4 separate regions of the Homo sapiens genome follow, and all the other regions are linked to region 1. The links come from fine-mapping of genetic effects on gene expression. A gene starts in region 1. Each other region holds a variant in brackets. All regions are shown on one strand. Distances are from middle to middle. Region 1 holds the start of LY6S-AS1 (LY6S antisense RNA 1). Region 2 overlaps CYP11B1 (cytochrome P450 family 11 subfamily B member 1). Region 3 has its middle 3.6 kb from the start of LY6L. Region 4 overlaps ZC3H3 (zinc finger CCCH-type containing 3).

Region 1 (5,867 bases):
TGGAAATTATGTACATATTAGGATACACAAGTTAGTTATTTCTTTGGATAAACTAAAAACTTTGATAACTCTTGCTTTTTTTTTTTTTTTTTTTTTTTTTTGAGACAGGGTCTCACTCTGTTGCCAGGGCTGGAGTGCAGTGGTGCAATCTCAGCTGACTGCAACCTCCGCCTCCCAGGTTCAAGCAATTCTTGTGTTTCAGCCTCCCAAGTAGCTGGGATTACAGGCTTGTGCACCATGCCCGGCTAATATTTGTTATTTTTTGTAGAGATGAGGTTTCACCATGTTGGCCAGGCTGGTCTCAAACTCCTGACCTAAAATTATCCACCTGCCTCAACCTCCCAAAGTGCTGGAATTACAGGTGTGAGCCACCACGCCCAGCCTTAAAAATGTGGATAATTCTTGTGGGAGACCAGTCAAGAAAAGAAGAGGAGAAAAACAGCCATAATAGCAATGGGGAAAAAATCAGGATCAACAGAGTCTTCAGCCGGGCGCAGTGGCTCACACCTGTAATCCCAACACTTTGGGAAGCCGAGGCAGGTGGATCCCTTGAGCCCAAGGGAGAAATAGCGAAGGGGGACACGTCACACTTTCAAACCATCAGATCTCCTGAGAACTCACTCACTATCACCAGAACAGCAAGGGGGAGGTCTGACCCCACGATCCAATCACCTCCCACGTGGCCCCTCCGCCAATTCCACATGAGATCTGGGCGGGGACACAAATCCAAACCATCTCATCCTGTAACTTCTTTCTCCCTAAAGGGTATAAAATCGAGCTGTACCCCGGCCACCTTGGGCACATGTTCCCCGAACCTCCTGAGTCTCTGTCATGTGAGGTCATGGTCCTCACATTTGGCTCAGAATAAACCTCTTCAAATATTTTAGAGTTTGGCTTTCTTTCATCAACACATCCCATCCTGTAAAACGCAGAGTAAGCCGGAGAGAATGGCTCACACCTGTAATCTCAACACTTTGGGAGACCAAGATGGGAGGATCATTTGAGGCCAGGAGTTCAAGAGACCAGCTTGGCCAACAAAGCAAGACCTCATCTCTAAAAAAAAAATAAGTAAATAAAAACAAATGTGAGTGACTTCACTCTTCTCTCCCAGAGCCTCCAGTTGTCACTTTTCTGAGTTTCTTCAGGGTCTCTTGAACTGTACTCAGGGTGTCAAGAGGTACAGTTGGGAAGGATGGGGGCCTCTAATGAGGGGGTTAAGAGCATCATTCTGGAGGAGACATGAGGGAGGCAGCAGAGAGGGGCTGTGGTGTGGCCTTCACACACTGCAACTCCTGGAGGTCGGGCAGGGGCAGGATGTCCAGACAGTGGACGCATGAGTGGGGAAGCCTTCAGCCACCCTGACTCCACCTAGGAGGTGCCCCAAGGCAGAACCAGCAGCTGAGCCTGGCCAGCCCCGGCAGCGATGAGAGACAGTAGGTTTTGGGGTGACCAACAGGGAGCCCCAGCAGGAGCCCAGCAGGAGAGAGAAGCTGGATATTGATCCTGCTGGCCCCTCCTGCAGTCCGCAGGACTGTCCACAGCCCTCGCTCCTCTTAAGCAGCTCACCTGCCTTGGTGGCCCCTCCCCTCCTGGCCCCTCCTTTTGGGCCTGGGTTGGGGGTGGCAGGGGTCCTGTCCCTGCACCCGGAGTGGAGTGGGATATGGCACTGGAATGTTTCTAGGCAGCCCACTCCTGTAAGAGGGCCTGGGGCTGGGCCCAGTAGTTCACACCTGTAATCGCAGCACTTTGGGAGGCTGAGGCAGGAGGATCGCTTGAGCCTCGGAGTTCGAGAGCAGCCTGGGCAACATAGAGACCCCACTTCTACTTGAGAGACACACAGAGAGAGAGAGAGGGAGGGAGGGAGAGAGGGAGGGAGGGAGAGAGAGAGGGAGGGAGGGAGAGAGAGAGGGAGAGAGGGAGGGAGGGAGAGAGAGAGAGAGAGAGAGAGAGAGAGAGAGAGAGAGAGAGAGAGAGAGAGAGAGAGAGAGAGAGAGAGAGAGAGAGGGAGAGAGAGAGAGAGGGAGGGAGGGAGGGAGGGAGAGAGAGAGGCTTCTGGTAAATGCTCCTATTTTGCAAACTCTCTTCCTATTTTGTGATTAGGATGCTCCATCAGTTTCTGCCACCAGCTTGCTGGAGACGCTGCGTGTCCCTGACTCCTCTCAAAGGGTGAAAAGCTCAGTCGCACCCGAGACCTGCTCCTCAGGCAGAGGATGAACTGAGTCCCCGCCCCACCGCCCGTCTGGCCTCTGTGAGAGTGGCGTGCAGGCTGACCCTGGAAGCAGAGGGACATTCGAACGGGCCGGCGGCCTTCTCCCCGCTAGGCTGGGCTCCGGGGTGGGCGGAGAGTGGCCGCCACAGGCCATCAGCGTCCGGGGTTCTGGAAGCAGGGAGGGCAGAGGCTGGCCCAGCCTATGGGAGACCCTGCAGAGGCGTGGCCTCCAGGCTAATCCTACCCCAGCTGCCCCAGGGCGGGATTTCTTTTCTTTTTTCCTTTAATCTCTTTATCTACAGGCGCCGAGGCTTAATGAGCTCCAGATGTCTCAACATACCAGGAGAGGTTTAGGATCCCCTGCCAAATACAAGGGAGATAAGAACGCACCAGACTTGCACAAACCAGAGCTGGTGACCCCCAGTTCCCTTTAAATCAGCGACATGTCATTACAAGGCGGAAGTCCTGCCCGAGAGGACAGTCCCCAGGCCTTGCTAAGCATGCGTGGTATCAAGAGGTGCATTGAGGCGCTCCTGCAGCCTCCTCCCGGCACGGGACTCCTCACAACCCCCAGCCTCAGCTTCCCTGACAGGGCAGGGGCTCACTCTTCTCCACTCCGGGCCAGGAACGCAGCCTGCTTGCCTTTTGTCCAATTGGGTGCTCTTTCTTTGCGACTGATACAAAGTGGGAACAAACTCCGCTTCCGGTGATGCCCGGGCCCCAGGAGGCTGGGGGAGAAGTGCACGCTGCCCAGCCTTCAACCTGAACTGCCCCCAGCACTTCCGAGCCCCGACCCCTGCAGCTGTGAGGTGAGGTGGGGAGGGGGCGGCCTGCGGGGAGGGGGCTGCCTGCGGGGAGGGGGCTGCCTGCAGGGCGGGCCGTGTGGGTCCCCCGAGCGTGGGGGACCAGTGACGTCAGGCAACATTTCTCCAAAGGCTCCCTCACCTTGTCCTTTGGCATCTGGGGTGCTCAGAGGAAGGGGGAAGCCGGGAGGGTGTGGAGAGGGTCACTGGAGAGGGGAAAGGCCAGAGTGATCCCCTTGGGGACGAGGCAGAGGAAAAGCTGTGGAGACCTAAAGAGAAGAGGTGGGGTGCGCCTGGGCCTCTCAAGTTTGTTTCCCAGAACCAGGGAAGGTTACAGTGGAAGGGAGGACCCTGTGGGGAAGAAGCTTCCAGAGACCTTCTGGAGAGGTGAGCCAAAGGCGAGCCATGGCCAGAAACCCCAGGCCTGCTGCAGTGGAGAGTCAGTGCTGCAGGAGGCTTGGGAATCAGGGCTGCCCTCCTTGGGCTGAACCCTCTATCTAGGGGACAATGGCCCTGGGCAAAAGCACTGCTTTCTGGGCCCCCTGGAGGGTAGGGCATGACACTGTGGTGCTAGAGGCAGGGGGGACATGAGGAGGTAGACGAATGTCCTGAGTCACCAGGTACAACCACTGCACCCCATTGTGACTGCCCCTGTGTCCGACACAGATTTGGGGGGTCTGGAATGTCCCTTGAGCTCCTTAGGCACTCATGAATTTCTAGTTGAGCAAATAAAATGTCCAAGATGCCCAGTTTGATCTGAATCTCAGATAAACAACAAATAGTCATTTTTACCAATGTTTGGGACATACTTATGCTAAAAATTGTTTATCTGAAATTCATATTTAATTGGGCATCTTACCCCATTGACCCTAATTAGCAAATCACATCCAGGAGTACAGGGCATGGCTGGGTGGTGGCTGTCACACTGTGCAGTCAGAGGGACCAGGACGTCTTGGATGCAGGCGTCTGGCCAGCGTGGAAGGCCAGGACCTGGTCACGAGATGTGGCTCCCGGCATGGCAGGTCAAAGACTGCTGGTCGTCTGAGCCCAGCCCTGACTCCAGGCTGAGATGGCCATTCACCCAGACCTTGAGCCCTGCCCTGACTCCAGGCTGAGACGGCCGTCCACCCAGACCATTCTGAGCCCTGCCCTGACCCCAGGCTGAGATGGTCATCTATCGGGGGAAATTCACCCCCGATATTTCATGTAGGTTCTTTTCTATTTTCCCTAAGTGTCGGCCAGTCTGAGAAATAAAGGGACAGAGTACAAAAGAGAGAAATTTCAAAGCTGGGCGTCCGGGGGAGACATCACATGTCGGCAGGTTCCGTGATGCCCCCTGAGCCGTAAAACCAGCAAATTTTTATTAGTGATTTTCAGAAGGGGAGGGAGTGTACAAATAGGATGTGGGTCACAGAGATCACATGCTTCACAAGGTAATAAGATATCACAAGGCAAACGGAGGCAGGGCGAGATCACAGGACCACGGGACCGGGGCGAAATTAAAATTGCTAATGAAGTTTTGGGCACACATTGTCATTGATAACATCTTATCAGGAGACAGGGTTTGAGAGCAGACAACCAGTCTGACCAAAATTTATTAGGCGGGAATTTCCTCATCCTAATAAGCCTGGGAGCACTGCGGGAGACTGGGGCTTATTTCATCCCTTATCTACAACTGTAAAAGGCAGCCGTCCCCAAAGCAGACATTTCAGAGGCCTCCCCTTAGGGATACATTCTCTTTCTCAGGGATGTTCCTTGCTGAGAAAAAGAATTCAGCGATATTTCTCCTATTTGCTTTTGAAAGAAGAGAAATATGGCTCTGTTTCACCTGGCTCACAGGCAACCAGAGTTTAAGGTGATCTCTCTTGTTCCCTGAACGTTGCTGTTACCCTGTTCTTTTTTCAAGGTACCCAGATTTCATATTGTTCAAACACACATGCTCTGCAAACAATTTGTGCAGTTAACACAATCATCACAGGGTCCTGAGGCAATATACATCCTCCTCAGCTTACGAAGATGATGGGATTAAAAGATTAAAGACAGGCATAGGAAATCACAAGGGTATTGATTGGGGAAGTGATAAGTGTCCATGAAATCTTCACAATTTATGTTCAGAGATTGCAGTAAAGACAGGCATAAGAAATTATAAAAGTATTAATTTGGGGAACTAATAAATGTCCATGAAATCTTCACAATTTATGTTCTTCTTCCATGGCTTCAGCCGGTCCCTCTGTTTGGGGTCCCTGACAATAGCCGTCCACCCAGACTGTTCTGAGCCCAGCCCTGACTCCAGGCTGAGACGGCCGTCCACCCAGGGCGTTCTCAGCCCAGCCCTGACTCCAGGCTGAGACGGCCGTCCACCCAGGGCGTTCTCAGCCCAGCCCTGACTCCAGGCTGAGACGGCCGTCCACCCAGGGCGTTCTCAGCCCAGCCCTGACTCCAGGCTGAGACGGCCGTCCACCCAGGGCGTTCTCAGCCCAGCCCTGACTCCAGGCTGAGACGGCCGTCCACCCAGGGCGTTCTCAGCCCAGCCCTGACTCCAGGCTGAGACGACCGTCCACCCAGGGCGTTCTCAGCCCAGCCCTGACTCCAGGCTGAGATGACCGTCCACCCAGACCATTCTGAGCCCAGCCCTGACTTTCTGTCCAGAGTGCAGTCCTGAAGGAGCCCCTTTCTCCCACCACCAGGGGAGACCAGTCTAACCCCTGACACGGGGCATCATGGGAGCCCTAGCCAGGGCACAGAAATGACAGGCCTGGCCCACACCACAGGATGGCTGGTGGCCGCAGGAGCTCTGCCTCTTGGTGACCATCCAGAGGCTCTCTGACAACCCTACTCAGATGTTCCCTGGAGCC
Region 2 (5,867 bases), 160 kb before region 1:
TTCATGGGGGAACAAATGCTCTGATCCTCATCAGCCACCAGGAGCTGGCTGCTGTGATCTTTGCCCTGATGAAAATCCATGGAGATAAAGACAGTCTGGCTGGGTACACTCTCAAACTGGGTGCTTCCTCTCCCTGCACGGGAGCACTGGGGAGTGGCCAGTTCAGGAGGGGTCAACTCTCTCTGCTGGGCTAGGAGCAGATGAGGCCCAAGGCAGGTTCACGCAGGAAACTGCAGCCTCCCTGTGCCCACCCCAGGTCGTGGCACATGACATGGCTCCGTATCAACCAGAGAAATGAGTCAATAAAACTCGTCTGAGTCCTTGTTGGCCCAATCCTGTCTCTCCTGTTGCCAAAAACATTTCTGGAACCACACCCCAGGTTCCCACCCCACATGACTCTTCCATCTCCTGACAGCATCCTCGGGACCTTCCCCAGGGGACAGCACAGGAAGCAGAGGACCCAACACCCACTCCTGGAACAAGGCCTGGTCCATGAAAGATGAGGCCTGGGGCATGAGGCTGACACGATCAGCTGGGGAACACACGTCCCTCGAGACTCAGTTGTATCACTTGAAAATGGGGATGTCAGGACAAGTGACCACAGGGGCCTTTTTATTCTACCCTGCAGGACCCTATTCCAGGGTGACAACTTTCAGAGAGCTCAGGGCATGCTCGAGCTGCCTAGGGGTCAGGCTGCAGGAGGGAACTTGACTGGACTCTGAGATGCTGGGATCCCGCTTAATGACTCTGACAGTCTGCGCAGGGGCCCTGGCCAGGGGAAGAGGAACAGGGACATGTGAGACTAGGCAGGAAGGCAAGGGACAAAACCACAGCACCCTTGTATGGCCACACGAGGAGCCTGGAGCCAGCACTGGGAGGGATGGGGGCAAACTGCCCAGAGGACAGTGCTTGCTGGAGAAAGGGCCAGGTGGGGCTGGGGACAAGGTCAGCAAGATCTTCCCCAGCTGTGCCCTGGCATTGCTGCTTAGCCTGGCAAACCCTGGTCCTAGAGGCCCTCGGGAGTTCCATTTGTGCTGGGGCTGGTTAGACAGAGGGGTGACTCAGGAAGCTGTGCATGTGGGAGAGAAGAGGGGTGGCCTGGGGTCAGGCAGAAAGGGAGGCTGGTGGCCAGGCTGGGACCCTGGGTGCAGAGACGTGATTAGTTGATGGCTCTGAAGGTGAGGAGGGGGAACATGCTGGGCCTCAATATGAAGCTGTAGACCATCTTTATGTCCTCTTGGGTTAGTGTCTCCACCTGGAGGTGTTTCAGCACCTAGGACAGAAGCCGGGTTTCCATCTGGCTTGGTCCGCAGCCCATGCACGTGGTGCAGCCTTCTCAGACCCTCAAAGTTGCAGAGATTATGCTGAAGGGGGAACAGCAGCCTGGCCTCCAACCTGTTTCATTCCTGACCAGCCCCACCTTACAGCCCAGGCCCAGAATTCATCCAGCCCAGGTATTGCCCAAGCCCCACTATCCTGTACAGGCTCCACCCGACTTCCCCAGTTCCCACCTGACCCGGTTTAGCAGCAACCTCACCCAGATGGTACGCTCCTCACCATACCAACTCCTGCCCAGGACCTACACAGCCTCAACCTGGCCCAGGTTCTCCCAGTACCGGCTCTGCCCAGTCCAGGAAACATGCAGGCCACTCCCACTCTGCCGAGGCCAGTCCCACATTGCTCAAGCCCCGCCCATGCTGCCCAGACCCCGCCCAGGCCCCTCCCCAGCCCGGGCCTGCTCACATGGTGCAGCAGCAGCAGCATCTCTGCCTCTGCCAGGCGCCGCCCAAGGCACTGGCGCATGCCAAAGCCAAAGGGCACGTGGTAGAAGTTCCTGCCGGAGCCCCTGATGTCTAGCCAGCGCTGGGGGTTATAGCGCTCAGGCCTCGGGAACAAGGCGGGGTTGCGACCCAGAGAGTAGAGGAACACGCGCACCAATGTCTGCGGACGGTGCAGAGCGGGGATCAGGGAATGACTGGGGAGGGAGGTTCTCAGCTCGAGGGGTGTGGGGCTCACTCACCCCAGCTGGGATGTGGTAGTTCTGAAGCACCAAGTCTGAGCTCGCCACTCGCTCCAGAAACAGACCCACAGGGTAGAGCCTGGAGGTGGGGGCATCCATAGAAAGGGTCCTCAGCTGGATGGGGCTTCCTGTGCTCTCTGCACCCTTCCTACCGAAGAACCCGCAGAGGTCCCAGATCCATGGGAAGCCCAGGTCGTAGGAAGTGCTTCCTTGCACCTGCTGAGCCCGGCCAAACCTCCCCTAACTTAAGCAGCCCCGAGCGCAGAAGGACATGCTCCACGTTAATCCCCAGGGCGTTGAAGAGGGATTCCAGAGAAAGAAGAGCTCCCTGTCCTTGAGGGGGAGGAAGAGCAGGTGCAGGGGAATGGGCTGCTGGGTGACGCTGTTTATCAGCCCCAGATTCTGTCTGCCACCACCCAGTGGGGGCTGCTCTCCAGCAGGGGGCCAGGGCCACAGGGAGGCCTCAGCCAGCACCCACCGCAAGGTCTCCTTGAGGGCCGCACGCAGCAAGGGCAGCTCGGTGGTTGCCTTCTGGGGATGTTCACTGATGCTGGCTGCGGCGGCCAGGCTCTCCTGGCGCAGGGCCTGCTGCACGTTGGGGTTCCGAGCCAGCTCAAAGAGCGTCATCAGCAAGGGAAACACCGTCTGCAGGAGACACAGCTGCAGGGTCAGACCTTGCACAGGAGGACTCAGCCCCCGGGACACCCCTCCCAGGACAACCTCCCTGTGAGGGGTGCAGACATGCATACCCTGAGAACGACAGAGCCCAAGACTTCAAATCCTAATGCCCATCCAAACCCCTTTCCCTGAGTCCTCCACAGAAAGGAACCCCCCATTCCAACCATGGCAACCTGCAAACGTGTTTATCACATCACAATCCCAAGTAAGAAATGTGGGGCCCATAGCCTGGGGATGGGACACGTGGGCGCCGTGTGACATTGGCAGGCAGTGCCTGGGAGGCAGGCTTGGCATCACCCTCTCTGGGTGGGGCTGGTTGCCGGCCTGACCGTGTCCACGCTCCCTGCAGTGAGTTCCATAGAGTTGGCCTTGATGGCATCTGGCGACAGTTCCGCATTCAACAGGAGCTCCGCCACGATGCTGGTGTACTGTTGAGGGCGGCTGAAGGCCAGTTCCTGATAGATTTTCTGGATACAGTTGTCGCCTATCCGGGGAGC[G/A]GGAGGCAGCCCTCAGACTTTGGTGCTGGGAGACATCCTTCAGTGTCCTCCTCCTGCCCAGACTGCCCCGACACCCAAGTCTCCCTGCTCTCATCCCAAATTCTCCGGATCAGCCCAGCCCAGCCCCAGCCTCGCACCAATCTCCCTGGCAGGAAGGTGAGGAATCCCCGACCCCTCCCTGTGGCCTCCATTCCCCACTGGGTGGTGGAGAGGGAGAAATTGGGCCCCCATGGTGTCCCTTCCCCATAGCACTGCCCGGGTCCCTGGCCTCACCGTACTGGAAGATGCAGTCCCAGGCCTCAAAGTGCTCCTTCCACACCTTGGGGCTGGTCCAGCGAGACAGGCTCCTGGGCATGAACATGAGCTGGACGGTGGATTTGAACATGACCTCCAGGGCATGGAGGAAGTTCAGGCTGGCAGAACTGGGGCTGTGGCCAACCAGGCCCAGCCGCTCTCCAAAAAGAGCCAAGTTGCTGGCTGCGGGGAGGATGCACTGCTGAGCACAAGGCAGCCCCGGGCCTCCTGGCTGCCTCCCCACACTCCCTTCAGTCCCCCATCCCCGTCCCTGGCCACTCCAGGGTCTCTGAGGCTGGATCTTCCCACGTGGCCCACACCTTCTATGGTGTAGTGGAAGATGCTGGGCTGGACGTCCAGGGTCAGGCTCCCCCGGGCGTTCTGCAGCACCTTCTTCTTCAGGGCCTGGGAGAAGTCCCTGGCCACTGCATCCACCATCGGGAGGAACCTCTGCACAGCGTTGGGCGACAGCACTTCTGGATTCAGCCGCAATCGGTTGAAGCGCCATTCAGGCCCATTCCTACAGAGGCCAGGGCAGAGCTTGTGAGGCCGCCCCAGCAAGACACAGGCCCTGACCCGTATCCCATCCTCCTTGTCCCCAAGGGGAATCGGCCTGCAGGGAGCTGACTGGGGGCCCTGGTAGAAGCTGCCTGTTTGTGTTCGAGCTGCAGCCTTTTCTCAGAGCGGCCTCCAGGTGCTGGACAAAGGCCACTCAGGTCTAAGCAGGGATGAGATGGTAGCTTCTGCCCACAGGTGCTGACAGGGTAACTGAGGTCATTCCCGGGACCTGGCACCCCAAGTCTGGCACCACCTCACCCATGCAGGCCCTCCCTGTAGTAGGGGGGAGGGATTTTCTGCAAGAAAGGAACTGACCCCTGTTGTCAAGCTTTGCCCACCTCACCCACACAGTGTCCTGAGGGGAGAGCCCCTGGCTGCCCTCTCCTCCCCGCCCTTCCCTGCCCTGGGCACAGTGCCTCTGGGGCAGCAGCCCCAGTGAAGTGTCTGCATCTTCTGCAGGACAGAAACCAAGCTTTGTGCTTCATGCCATCCTCACCTACAGCCAGAGTGCGTGGGGGCTCCATGGATGCCCCCAGGGAATGGTGGGGAGGAATTTCCCCTGTCAGCCACATTTCTGCAAAACTCAAAGCTTTATTTATGTCCAGCTGGCTGTTGTGAGCTGTTGACAGTGATGGCAGGCAGAAGATGCACATGCTCACATGCGCCCATGCAAGACCTCAACACCATGTGTGAAGAGACACATGTACACATGTGCACAGACACTACACCCATGCCGGCACCTGCACATGCACACACAGAGACACTCGTGCACACACACCACACATACATGCACACAGACACATGTGCACACACGCATGCACACACAACACGTGCAAATGCAGGTACAGAGAAACACACAGCATGTGCACAGATGCAAGACGCACACACATACAGGTGCGCTCCCCTTCCTTCCGTTATGTGCACCCAGCCTTCTGGACTTGCCTTCCTGGGTCCTGACTCCCTCCCAGATGTCGTCTGTAGGCCAGCCTCAGTGAAGGCCCCCACCCTTGAGTGCCCTTTTACCTAAACCCCACTATTCCCAAAAGCGTTCTCCTCCTGCCATGGAGTGGGGGCTGTCGCCACTGTGACATCCTCGTCCAGTCCTTCCCCCGTCCTAATGACAACATTCCTGCAGGTGACTGACTCCAAGCATCAGCCTCTCCCTGCCCACCTGACCAGGCGCCACCCTCTGCACGGGCCAGGAAACATCCTCCCCAGTGCCATCAACCGCCCCACCTCGTGCCTTGCTTCTGAGAACAATGGAGCCACCAGCCACCTGCATCCCCACCTGCCTCCTGCCCCGGACTGTCCCCATCAGGAAGGTTTGCCAGGACTGCAGGGACCCTGAGCGCCCTGAGGGAGGCTGCGGCCCCGGCGAACACCAGGCTCAGTACTCAGCCTGTGACCTGGGCCAGTGGGAGTACCCTTCTCAGGGCCTCAGTTTTCTGACCTATGGGAAGGACAGTCCCCAGACCGCAAGAGAAAGCATCGGCCAAGGTTGGTGCAGAGCGGGTTCTCACTACACAGAAGGGCTCATTGCTCTGCATCTTCTCTGCAGAGGTGCCCGTGCCCATTTCTCCACCACCGCCCTGCTTCCCCAACCCACAGGGCAGACACGACCCCACGGAATGGCCGTCCTCTGGGTCGGGTGCTCACCCTCACTGCCCACCACAGGGGCCCAGGGCAGATGTGCTTTTGGGTCCTGCCTCTCTCGCCTCCCCCCTACACCCAGGCTGCCCACCCTGCTCCCAGCTCTCAGCTCGCCGCTTACAGCAAGAACACGCCACATTTGTGCCCACGATGTTGTCTGTAGGCCACCC
Region 3 (5,867 bases), 38 kb after region 1:
TTTGATAAGCCTATTGAATCTTGGGTTAATGTCTCTTACCAATTTTGGAAAATTGGCTATTATCCATCAAAATAATATTGCTCCTATCCCATTCTCACCCTTCTCCTGGGATTCCAATACACATGTTAGACAGTTGGATCAGTACCATATGGCCCTCTTCTCTCTGTCTCTGTCTCTCTCTGTGCATGTGTGTATGTGGGTGTGTGTGTTTGTGTACTTTTAATTCTATCTTTTCTCTGTGCTTTATTTTGGATAATTTCTATGGACCTGTCTGAAACTTCATCAATCCTTTTTGCTACTATATGTTTAGTCTGCTCTTAAGCCCATCCAATGAGTTCTTAATTTCAGGTATTATATTAATTGGTTAATATAATAAACACTTATTTTTATTATTTATTTTATTTTTAATAACAAATAATGAGCACCTACTTTCATAGCTTTCATCTCTCTGTTGAAATTCTCCATCTTTTCATCCATTTTGTTCATCCTTTCCTCCATCTCATTTCATGTATTTACAAGAATATTGTAAAGCATTTGTCTGCTAATTCTTTCATCTGGGTTATCTGTGCATCTGCTTCTATTGAATAGCTTATCTCTTGGTTGAAAATCACACTCTCCTGTAATTCTTATAATTTTTGGTAGTGTGCTAGAAATTATATGCAAAAGAACCAAGAAACATCAGTCTCTCCCCGCAGGTAGAGCTCTGCCGATGACTAACCCGCCCTCAGCACCATTCAGCTCCACTGCGAGAAAGGGGCCCCCCAAGACTGGCAGTTCCTTCAGATTTGCACCCACCATTTTCCAATGCATTTGAAAGAAATGATAATTTTTGTACATAATTCCATTTTTTCTCATTGTTGAAATAGAAAGGTTGGCTTCACACTCTTTCCTCATGCTAACTGGACGTGAAAATCTTGTCTTTTTGCATTACAAAATCTGGGAGTTATTTGTCATTATGACTCATTTTTTTCATTTACATTATTCATCTGTGGATCTTTTTTCCTTATTCAGTCTTGCCAGATATTTGTCTAATTTTTGTTCCTTCAAACACACAGCCATGGCTGTGCTGATTTTTCTGTTTTGTTAATAGGCATTCTCAGTCCTGTCTCTTTTCTTCAGTTGAGTTTTGAAATGTGGAGGTTGGACCCTGAGCTTGCTAACTTCAGGCTTCCCACCAGTTTCCCCCTAATAACTCCAGCATTGATCACCTAAGAAAAAAGTCTCCCTCCTACTCACCAAATATCACTCTAATGGCTGAGAACATTATTAATTCAAAAATAAGGCCAGGCACGGTGGCTCACGCCTGTAATCCCAGCACCTTGGGAGGCCGAGGAGGGTGGATCATCTGAGGTCAGGGGTTCAAGACGAGCCTGGGCAACATGATGAAACCCCATCTCTACTAAAAATACAAAAAGTAGCCAGGCGTGGTGGTGCACAACTGTACTCCCAGCTACTTAGGAAGCTGAGACAGGAGAATCACTTGAGCCCGGGAGACAGAAGTTGCAGTGAGCCAAGATCACGTCACTGCACTCCAGCCTGGGCAACAGAACAAGACTCAATCTCAGAGAAAAAAAGAATTTAACCTTTCTTATTTCCCAATGCAAATATATAGGGTTAGATTTTTCTCAGGTACAGCTTTTACTGCAGCCCAATAGTTTTGATAGTAGTATCTTAGTTTTAATCATTTCTAGGTATTTTAATTTCCAATATGACTTCTTCTTTAACTGTGGTTTATTAGAATAGTGGTTTTCAATGTTTTAACATGTGTAACTATGTCACTGATGCTTTTGTTATGAACGTCTGTGCTGGGTCAGAGAATATTGTCAGTGTGGTAAATGTGTCAGTTTGAAAATGATAACAAAATCCTTGCTCACTGTTGCCTTGAAAAAAAATGAAAATGATAACAATCTGTACCTTTAGGACAAAATGAAAGTACCGGACTCTCTGGTTCAAGAGCTCCCTGGTGCCTGTGTGTTTGACTGATTTTGTGAACCAGAAGGATTGTGCGCCGGGGAGACCATTCAGGCTTACTGATGTCACTAAACCCAAAGTCAGAAACAGAACACAATTGCACACAGCTGTCCGTCTAAGAAAGACAGCACCTGATGAATTGCTCAGGCACAGGGAGTGAGGGGCCAGAGTGTGAGGCCCCCACTGCTGACCCAATTCTCTCAGCACCCCCACACCTCTCTGGGGTGCCACTGTTGTTCCTCCTGGGAGCCCTGTCAGCAGCAGAGAGGGGTCTCGCTGGGGACGCCCAGACACCTATCCCCAGATTAAGACAGGGCAAGGAGAAGACCTGTTCCCAGGGAGAGCTGTGCATGGAGCCCCCAAGGCAGGGCCAGGAACTGGAGTGTGAAAGAAGCCAAGTCACCAAAACTATGTAGAGTCAAAAGGGCTAAAGCTCCACAGCCCTAAGAATCAGACACTCAAACCAGGGTTCCACATGGCAAGGGGAGGAGAAAGGCAAGCAAGTTATGACCTGGGCAGAGCCAGGAGGGGCGAGCAAGAAACTGGCCAGGCCCTACACGTGTGCCTGGGGCAAATGGTTACGATCTGAGCTTCCCAACAGCCAAGGTGAGAAGGAAAAAGGGTCAGAGGTATAAGTGTAGCGGGAGCACGATGATCTTCAGTGTCAACAATTCAGCCTGGCAGTCCATAGCAAGAGCACAGGGATGGAGACTGTGGGACTCATTCAGGACACCACTCGGGGAGGCCTCTGGACATCACGCCAAGATCCCCTTCACTGGAAAAATTCCACAGTGTGTTTCCGTCCGTGCCTACACCGGGGTTGGCGCACATACCCACACAGCAGCTTGCTGGCACCCAGCTCTCTGACAGTGAATACAATAAGGGCAGGAAGGAAGGTCATCCACTTCATCTAAACAGGAAGCTTGCACATTTTCCTGATTGAGATCTACACTTTAAAAAGTTAATAAATATATCCACACCCAAAACACTGACACACATAACATTTACGTAACATATTCACATAGATTTATAAC[C/T]GATAAACATATTTACAACATAAAACATAAATATAAAATATGAAATAAAATACCAAACATACTTATAACACATATATTTGTATATCTAAAACATTATATACACACATATATACACAAGCAAAAATATATAAGCATAAATAAAACACATTTTTATTTAAATTACTTTCTTCATTAAAATATATGTGTCCTAATTGTGCATAATGTACTCTGATCTTTATTATTCAATTCAATTCTATTCTTTCATCTTCTAGAACATACAAACATGGTTCCTATTCACCAGCTGGGTTTTATGACCCGGGCTCCTTGGACAGCGCTGCTCCCAGCACCGCTCAGAAGCAGTGCAGAGTGCAGGCCGAGGCTCCATGCGGCTGAGCCGGGCTTGAATTCAGCCCTCTACCTATTACCTGGGTGATCCTGAATCAGGGCAACAACCATCCTGGTTTGCCCAGCACCGAGGGCTTCCCAGGTCGCAGGACTTTGGTGCTAAAATTGGGACATTGATCCCCCATCATGAAGCCAACTCCTCAGGTCTCTGTTCCATTTTATTATTTTTAGAATTGGACTTATTGTACCCACCTCCTAGGATTGAAATCAGGCCAGAAATGAAGAATGTTGATAGAATAAACACTTGACAAACGTCACTGGGGCCTGTGGGCTGTGCTCGTACAGGCCTCTCTGCTGCCAGATGTACACTGGCTCACACACCTGGACAGGTGTTGGAGTCTGGGGCCAGCGGGGTGGGGGCTCCTGACAGAGACCACCAGGAACAAGCAAGCCCTTAACAAGGAGGTGGCCTTGCCTCTCCTGGGCAACTGCAGGACCAAGTCAGGGAACCGTGGAGGCGAAGACCGCAGAGCCATGCCCCCGCCCTCAGACCCAAATCTTTGCTCTGGGCTGTTTTGAAGCCTGTCCATGAACTGTACTCATTCCAGGGGTGCCTCCAGGAACAGCCACAGGCTGTGCCCGCCAGGGAGCTGGAGTGATACGTGATGGGGATAACTGCATGACCCAGCAAAGTATCCTGGGAACACCAGGCCTGCACCCGCCCACCCTGCTGACCACAGGCTGACTGACCCTTTCCCGTCCCTGGTTAGTCCCCACCACCTCCAGGGGCTGCTGTGTCTGGGAGTTAATTCATGAAGGAGAGAAGAAATGAGGCCAGGAGCACAGCTGGATGCAGTACTGAGGAACTTGGTCAGCCCTGGGGAGGGCCAGTCCCTTCTCGTGAGCACTGAAAGCTGTGTGGCTCCGAGCACGGCCCTCTCGGCCGTGGCTGCCCCAACACCCTGTCATCAGCCACAGGCTCAGATGAGTCTCTGCAGATCCCTCAGCCACTTCCTTTGAGACCTGTGTGTTCCTTCCAGCCTCCAACCTCCAACTACCACCTGGACTCCTTTATTGCATGTGCCTCCAATGCCGATGTTCTTTTGATTTTTCTTTTTGATTTTTGACTCTGCAGATTTCACAGTGCCAAATTCATTCAAATCAATCACAGTGAGAATGGCAAATGAAAAAATGCACATGATAAACAAATTGCATATGGCCCCTCCCCTCCAAACAACTTCCATCCCGTGCCCTCTAAGCCCACCCCCAAAACAGCCCTGATCCACACACAGGCTGGGCGGCAGAAAGGGCTGGAGCATCAGAGGACAAAGGGAGCAGAGGACGCTGAGCCCGGACAGGCAGGGGTCAGAGGGCAGGGCCCGTCTGGGGCATCCCTAGAGCATGCACCAGGGGAAACAGGAACGGGACAGTCCTGCTGGGTGGGCCACTATGTGGACGCAGGGGAAATGGCCCCACCTGGCTGCACACTCACTCTCCGACTGGCACTTTCTCTCCCAGCAGCCGTTACTGGAAAGGCCACAGCAGGGGAGGGGCTTGCTGGTCTGCAGTGCGGGAGAGGATGCGGAGGCCCTGGAGGTGGTGGGCAGCAGTCACGCTGGGGCCAGGGGCAGCCCTTCCCAACCACCTTATGGGTAGCAGTTACCCCTTTCTTCTTTCCGAGACCTACCTCCTGCAAGACCCCTGAGGGCAGGTGACTGGGCCGGTTCACTGCTGCAGACCCAGGGTCCAGCCCTGCTTGTCATCATACATGCTCAAAAGGATGTCATTCAGGAAATGAAGGCAGGAAGCAGAAAAGAGCAAACCTGACACGGGGTGAAAGCTGTGTGACCACCTGGGCTGGAGGGAAGGGCTCCGAGGAGGAAAGTGGCTCGGTGGTCCTCCAGACTGAGGACAGCATTTCCTGACATCACCTGGGTCTGGCAGGGCCCTGTGCCCCCGGTGAGGCGGGAGAGGGTGTGACAGTACCTCCGGAGGGGAGAGCTGGGTGCCCACCAACCGGGATGTCCATGCTGTTGGGTTCCAGCGGCCCAGTGAGAACACGGGTCAACTCCCTTGGCTCCCGGGGAAAAAACAGAATAAAGAATAGGACCAAGGGAAGACTCAGTGTAGGAGGCAGATGAGTCTAGTGAGGAGGGCGCAGGTCTATGCTATGACGGGGGCGGCCTCACACTCTGCATCCAGGACCTACATGGGGCCGAGCAGATGCTGCAAAAGAAATTGGAACCACAGCCTCCAACGGGCCCAGGGACGCTTTAGCACTCGACAGACCCGGCTGGGCCCCAGCCTCACCTGTGGGAGGACGAAGTGTGGGAGGACAGAGCTGGGAGGCAGCCTGCACAGGAGCCGTTTTTCCAGGGCACCAGTCTTCAAAGGCCGGGACTCAGCCCCCTGCAGGTCCCAGAAATTTGGCAGGAGTCCTGGAGCTGCAGCTCCCAACCCCTGCGGCAGCTCCAGGCTCCTGTAAGGCTATGGGAGCACGCCCTGCTTTCCTCTGGGCAACTGAGCCAGCCTGAGGGG
Region 4 (5,867 bases), 430 kb after region 1:
GAAGGTGTGGGGGCAAAGCCCGCTTGGCGGAGGCATCTGCCCAGCTGCCCACTGCAGCTGTGGAGGTCTGGGGGAAGGGCACCTGTCCCTGAAGCCCTGGGCTGGCGCTGGCAGATCCTGGCTAGTGTCTGTTACTCTAAATTTTAGAGGTGCCTCATCAGATGCTCCTCAAAACCCCAAGCATAAGCACCACCCCCGCCTTTCTGAAACCGCACACCACGGCCTGGGAGGGCGGCCTGGGAGTGCGGTGGTGGCAGGAAGGAAATGGACCTTGGGGCTGGACATGGCCGAGTGCTGCCAGGCCTGAGAGCCAAGGGGATGAGGCGGGGAGGGGGTGCCATCTGGAGGAGGAGGGTCTGCTCCGGTGACACAGCCCTGCCTGCCTTTTACAGACAGAGGTCACCCAGGATCACGGGGTGGGCAGGGCAGGACCAGCCTGCTGAGGGCGGCTTTCCCGGGTTCCTCAAATACGCGCATGATCCTTCCCAGACCAGATCCAATTTCCTACAGGGCAAATGCTGAAATGGACACTGCAGTTAAGAGGCAGAGGTGACATCACTCAGAAATTCTGGGGACCTGAGGTGGTGACAAAGCCATCCTGGTTTAAAAAGGGATGTCCCAAAGCCGCCCAGCCCCAAATAGCCAGACCTGCCCCACTCTTGAGCACCAGAGAGCAGCCTCGTCCTCACTCTCCCAGATGGCCCAGCAGCCGCAGACTCCCACCCGAGGACCCAAGGCTTCCGCTCCCTCGCACCCCCAGGCTGGAGCCCCCCCCACTCCTCGCTTTGTGCTTTGCGTCCAGCCCAGTGCTCCCTAGCTAGGGTCAGTGGTGCTGCTGCCCTTCACCCTCAGGGGCCCTGCCTACTGTCCCCACTCAGCCCGTCTCAAGTTTCAAAAGGGCAGCTCCAGAGCTGAGTGGCCAGCGAGCCCGGCTGGGGCAGGAGCAGGAGCTAGTCATGGTACCTGGGGCAGGAAAGGGGGCGTTGAAGAACGCAGAAACCTGAGGCGTGTGGGGGGCCAGGGGCAAAGGGAGGGTGATGAGGGTCTTGGTGCGGAGGGACCAACGCGGGGGTGCTCAGGGCAGCCCCCGTTCTCAGGCCGGGACCCTTGTCCCCGGGTGGGCAGCAGGGCCCAGTCCAGACGGCACGGGCACGCCCTCACACCTGCCAGCCTGTGGGGTGAGGGACGCGGCAATGCGGCGGTCTGTCGGCACTGCTGGTTCCCAGTCTCTCGCCCAGGCTGCCAGTGACACTGCGACGCCATCTGCTCCAGGCAGGGACACACTGGCATCACGTGCCCGCCTGGCAGGACCGGGTGCAGCAGGAGGGGTTACCTCCCTTTCCACTTTGTGCTCTTTAAAAAAATGCCAGTGTGAGGCTCACGGCAGGAGTTCTGACAAGAACAGGAGGCACTTTTTCAAATGCTTTGCAGTGTTAAAAAATGCACATAAAATAGCTGGCTGGAAAAGAAGCAAGGGCTGCCTGAGAAGTGCTAAAAAGTTCAACTGAATAACCCCCAGCAGCTCCACAGCAGAAGGCGCCATGCATTCCAGAGAACTTTCACTTCCCCGGGATCTTCTCAGAATAGACTCGGCTCCCACCAGCCCCACCCCCTGCTCGGTGCCCCAGTGCCAGCTCTGGGCACCGCTGGATGTCAGGCTCTGCAAGGCAAGCGGGGTGGGGGCCTTGCAGTCAGAGGTTCCTCAGCACCTCCAGGCCCTGCTCCGGCCAGCACCCACTGGACAGCTGCTGCCTGGCCCAAGGGACAACATCCACGATGACCGGGGCACGCAGGCAGCCCCAATTCCCAGGCCAGCACTCTCCCAAGAAGTTAGGCAGGGCTGCGCCAAGCCCTGGTCTGCTCACAGCGCGCCCACCAGGCCCTCCAGGGCACGTCCGTCTGGCACATGGAGGCTGTGCCCTTGGGAGAAGGCAGCCAGCGGCAGAGGGTGCCCCAGAAGAGGCAGTGTGGGGCGGGGGCAAGCCGACAGGGCCTTCGTCACCCCAGGGAGGGTGGGCAGGTGACCAGCAGGGGAGGCGCAGAGGCCGGACGTGCCAGGAACACGCAGCAGCTGGCCCACAGCAGGGAGGGCCACGGCCACAGGTGGCTGGGGGCTTTGGGGACACAGAACAAGCCAAGGCCAGCCCTGTGGCCAGAGACTGGGGCCTCTGCCCCACCACAGGAGCCATCAGGCTCATGGTGGCCACATATGGGCCATGCTCACTGGGGGCCCACACAGGATTCTGTGGGGAGGGACCCTGGAGCTCAGGCCTTCAGGTGGCAGGCGGGCCCAGGAGGGAGGGCTCGGCTTCAGGGACTGGGGAAGCTGGGGGTAGAAGCCATACTGTCCTCTGCCGTCAGGGGCCCAGAGCCCAGGGGGTCAGCCAGGACAGCCACCCCCACCCCTTCCAAGAAGGCTGCTGCACTTTCTTGTTGAAGTCAAATTTCTGCTGACACCAGGGGAGGAAATTTATTTCTTTAATTATTATTCCTCTTAAGTGGGCTGGTCAGCGGTATCCCACAGCTGGGAGCCATCTACCTTCCTCATGGCGAGGCGGGGCCGGTGGTGGCCCAGGCAGCTGGAGCTGTGGCCTCGCCTGTCGACCCAAAGGGCGAGTGCGGCCTCACTGGGCTCTGCACAGCCCCAGGACTGCCACAGTCGCCACCAAGGCTGGCCAGCGGGACACCGGAGGCCATAGCCCTACTCGATGGCAGGCGGGCCTCCCCAGGGGCAGGGGTGGGAGCAAGGAGGCCCCTGGACCCCTGCCTGCCCTGGCTGGCACCAGCCTCTGTGCGCCAGACCCTCCTTGCTGGCGTTGCTGAGGCTGAATGAAGGAGTTCTGGGTTGCTGCTGGT[G/A]CAGGGGTGAGACATGCCCCAGAAGGGCTGGGGGAACCAGACTGGCTCTCTGATGGCTCTGGGCCAAGGGAAGGGCCAACGGAGGCAGAGGCCAGTCAGCAAGGGTGGCCGGGATAGACTGTTCACAGTGTGGTGACGTCAGGGGCTCTGCGCCCGCCAGGGCTCTGCCATGTGTGTAAATGGCAAGGCGAGATTCTGCGGAGCTCAGCACTTGGCACCGACGGGGAGACACAGCAGCACCACAGCCTCCCAGGGAGGAGTGTGCAGCCCCTCCCTCTCCTCCCCACTGCTGAGCGGGCCAGGGCTATGCACTCCCTCCTCCCCAAAGCTCAGACCCTGGGCCATCCGGGTGGTGGGCACCGTGTCTGAGGGGGCCAAGTGCAAACCTGCTGCCTGCCACAGGCGTCTCTGTGGACACTGAGGGATGGGAGAGCTGGGATGGCAGGTGCACCTCCCCACACAGGCCCACCCAGCCCAACAAACGTGGGCCACAGGATCCCGGCGAGGGCTGAGACGACCCAAGGGCCCCGGTGCGGGGAGACGGACCCATGCCACAAGCCCCTCCGTGGGTCCCGCGGGTGCACGGTGCAGGGAGAATCCCAAGGACGCACCGCGACCTGGGTGAACAGGCGGGGCCAGCCTTGGCCCTGTGCAGGGAGTGGGATGCAGCTGCTGCAGTGGGGGCCACTCCCTGAGTGGGTGGGTCCTCCCTGGGATGGGCTCTGGCTCTGGAAAGGGCAGTAGGCATCCCCTCCCTGGCTCCAGCTTCCGCAGAGCAGGGCAGGGCCTGCAGACTGACTGCCAGGAGCAGCCTCTGCTGCCTATCCTGGCCGCCTGGGGCTCTCGCGTACGTCAGGACATCATGGTCTCCATGGCTGCTGTCTTGGCCACTTAATTATCAACCTCAGTCAGTACTACTATCGTGACTACCGGGAGCTTTCTGAATGTGGGTGCAGTGGTGCCAGGTAGACCCCGCCTGCCCCCAACCCATCTCCTCCCCCTGCTGGCTGTGCACAGGGTCCTGCGATGCCTCACGCCCCCTCCCACTCCTGCCCAGGCCTCTGCATGGCGGCCTCAGGATGCTCTTGCTGCTTCTGTCCCTTCTGGGCCCTCTCAGTTTTCAGCTCATGAGAAAGGCCTCCCTGACCACCTGACTGGACACGAGTCTGCGTATTTACACCTGTGGGCCCCAGGAATCTTCACTGGTGTTCAGCCCACGCCTCTCCCTGCACTAGGGACGTCAGAGGCAGCATCCATGGGAGATGCAGGGCACCCTCCCACCCAGGCAGGCAGGTGAGGGCTCGGGGTGCCCTTCCCTGGGCAGAGGGATCAGCCTGGCTGCTCTGCCCACTGCCTCTAGGACCAGAGAGGAAAGCCAGTGCCAGGACTGTGCCTGCAGTGTCAGTGCACTCAGGACAGTGCCAGCCAACGTGGGGCTTGGCCTCTGCCAAGGAGGCCCAGGGGAAGGTGGGACCACCCGGCATGAGCAGAGAGGCACCTCATGGCTTTGTCCCTGGGGGTCAAGCACGATGTCCTCAGAGCACCTGCTGCTGGCCCCGGGAGCTCCACTGGTCAGGGTCCCTGTTGGCTCACATGGCTGGTGGCTGGTGGACGGCCACAGGCGCCTGGGACCTGCTGTGCCAGAGACTGGCCAGGGGCTTATACTTCACTCAGGGAAATGACTGCTGGAGAGAAGCCCGAGGCCCCTCCCCTCCACGATACAAACAGCTGTGTGTAGCCCCACAGGCCACCAAGCTCCAGAGTCCGAGGATCAGAGGTAACCAGAGAAGGCCCTGCTGGGTGACAGGAAGGCCTATCCCCCAACCCACGGCAGCATCCCCCAGGGGCAAAGCCTCACCAAGGCCCCCATGTTCTGAGCCAGCTCCTGCACTGAGCACCCGGGGTGTAGCAGAGATGAGACCACACGCACAAATCACACAGCCCAGTCCCTCAAGGTACGGGTGGGGAAGCGGAGGCACACACAGGGGTGACACAGTGCCCAGGAAGGGACCCAGGGCTTCTCACCAGATCCTCAGTGAGTGGGAGGCACACACAGGGGTGACACAGTGCCGAGGAAGGGACCCAGGGCTTCTCACCAGATCCTCAGCGAGTGGGGATTTATTCCTGCCCAGTTCACCAGGACCCCCCAGCCCCAGCCACCAGGCTACAGGCATGGTCATGGGCACTGACCAGCCACAGTGTGGCTCAGAGCCCTGTGGGGCAGGTGCCAGGGCCCCCGTGCTGCTCCCAGCGACTCTGCCCAGGAAACAGCCCAGAAGCCCCTGGAGCCCAGAGATGGATGCTAGGAACACAGCCAGGCAGGGCGGCCAGTGAGGCTGGCTTCCAGGGAGGTACGCTTCCTGCCTCTCCTCTGACCCCCGCAGACCCTGCCGTCGGAGTCTACCTCCTCCAGGGGCTGAACCTGTTCTCTCTCTAGGTCCCAGGCGGGTCGGGGAGCCAGCATGGCCCAGCCTCTGCAATCCCAACACCACCTGCAATCTCCCTCTTTTTTTTTGATGGACAAGAAAGGGGGTAAAATTGGACTGAAACCAAAATATTTTTCTAGTTAATTTGTAGGATAAGTGAATCCAAAGCATTTCCTTCTCCTGAGCCTGTTTCCCTGGGCTGGGAGGGCGCAAGGTGGCGGCGCCGGCTGCCTCCAGACACAGTTGTCGAGGCGTCGCCAATGCGATTACGGGCGCCGCGGCCCCAGGTGTGCGCTCGCCCGGGCGTGTTTGCCGTACCTGGCATCATCCTTTTTCCAAAAGCGAAACATGGTGCTTGTGAGCAACTCTCCCCCACCCCACAGAAAATCAGGGGCCGCTCAGCCACGCGAGGTGGGCGCCACTCCAGGGCCCTTCCTGGGGGATGGCAGAGGAAGGCCTCCTGGCACCCTCCATTCTCCGGCTGCCCTGTTGGTCTCACTAGGGATGGCTACGAAGGCGCCGGGTGTATGGAAGAGTGAAATTAACTCCCAGGATGGGACGTGACCCATTTGGGAAGTGCTTGTT

What was found. PIP is the estimated chance that this variant, and not a neighbour inherited with it, causes the effect.
Region 2: its variant is fine-mapped to the expression of LY6S-AS1 in lung (GTEx, PIP 0.91).
Region 3: its variant is fine-mapped to the expression of LY6S-AS1 in subcutaneous fat (GTEx, PIP 0.98).
Region 4: its variant is fine-mapped to the expression of LY6S-AS1 in subcutaneous fat (GTEx, PIP above 0.99).

What each region holds. Positions count from the first base shown.
Region 1 is chr8:143,036,552-143,042,418 of GRCh38, forward strand. It overlaps LY6S-AS1 (LY6S antisense RNA 1), which reads left to right and starts at 2,658. Exons shown (of 6, transcript NR_149322.1): 1 at 2,658-3,018. LY6S (lymphocyte antigen 6 family member S) reads right to left here. Exons shown (of 4, transcript NM_001406478.1): 4 at 4,288-5,867. RefSeq lists enhancers at 2,330-2,881, 4,903-5,478.
Region 2 is chr8:142,873,214-142,879,080 of GRCh38, forward strand. It overlaps CYP11B1 (cytochrome P450 family 11 subfamily B member 1), which reads right to left. Exons shown (of 9, transcript NM_000497.4): 2 at 5,819-5,867; 3 at 3,810-4,009; 4 at 3,469-3,672; 5 at 3,028-3,182; 6 at 2,499-2,665; 7 at 2,021-2,099; 8 at 1,744-1,941; 9 at 1-1,273. The coding sequence ends at 1,160. Among named protein-coding and RNA genes, the nearest start is that of CYP11B1, 3.7 kb to the right of the region's middle. The variant G/A (reference allele first, on the strand shown) is at 3,196.
Region 3 is chr8:143,074,141-143,080,007 of GRCh38, forward strand. It overlaps a transcript of LY6S not described here. Among named protein-coding and RNA genes, the nearest start is that of LY6L, 3.6 kb to the right of the region's middle. The variant C/T (reference allele first, on the strand shown) is at 3,006.
Region 4 is chr8:143,469,359-143,475,225 of GRCh38, forward strand. All of the region lies in intron 5 of ZC3H3 (zinc finger CCCH-type containing 3), which reads right to left. Among named protein-coding and RNA genes, the nearest start is that of SNORD149, 34 kb to the right of the region's middle. RefSeq lists an enhancer at 1,219-1,920. The variant G/A (reference allele first, on the strand shown) is at 2,857.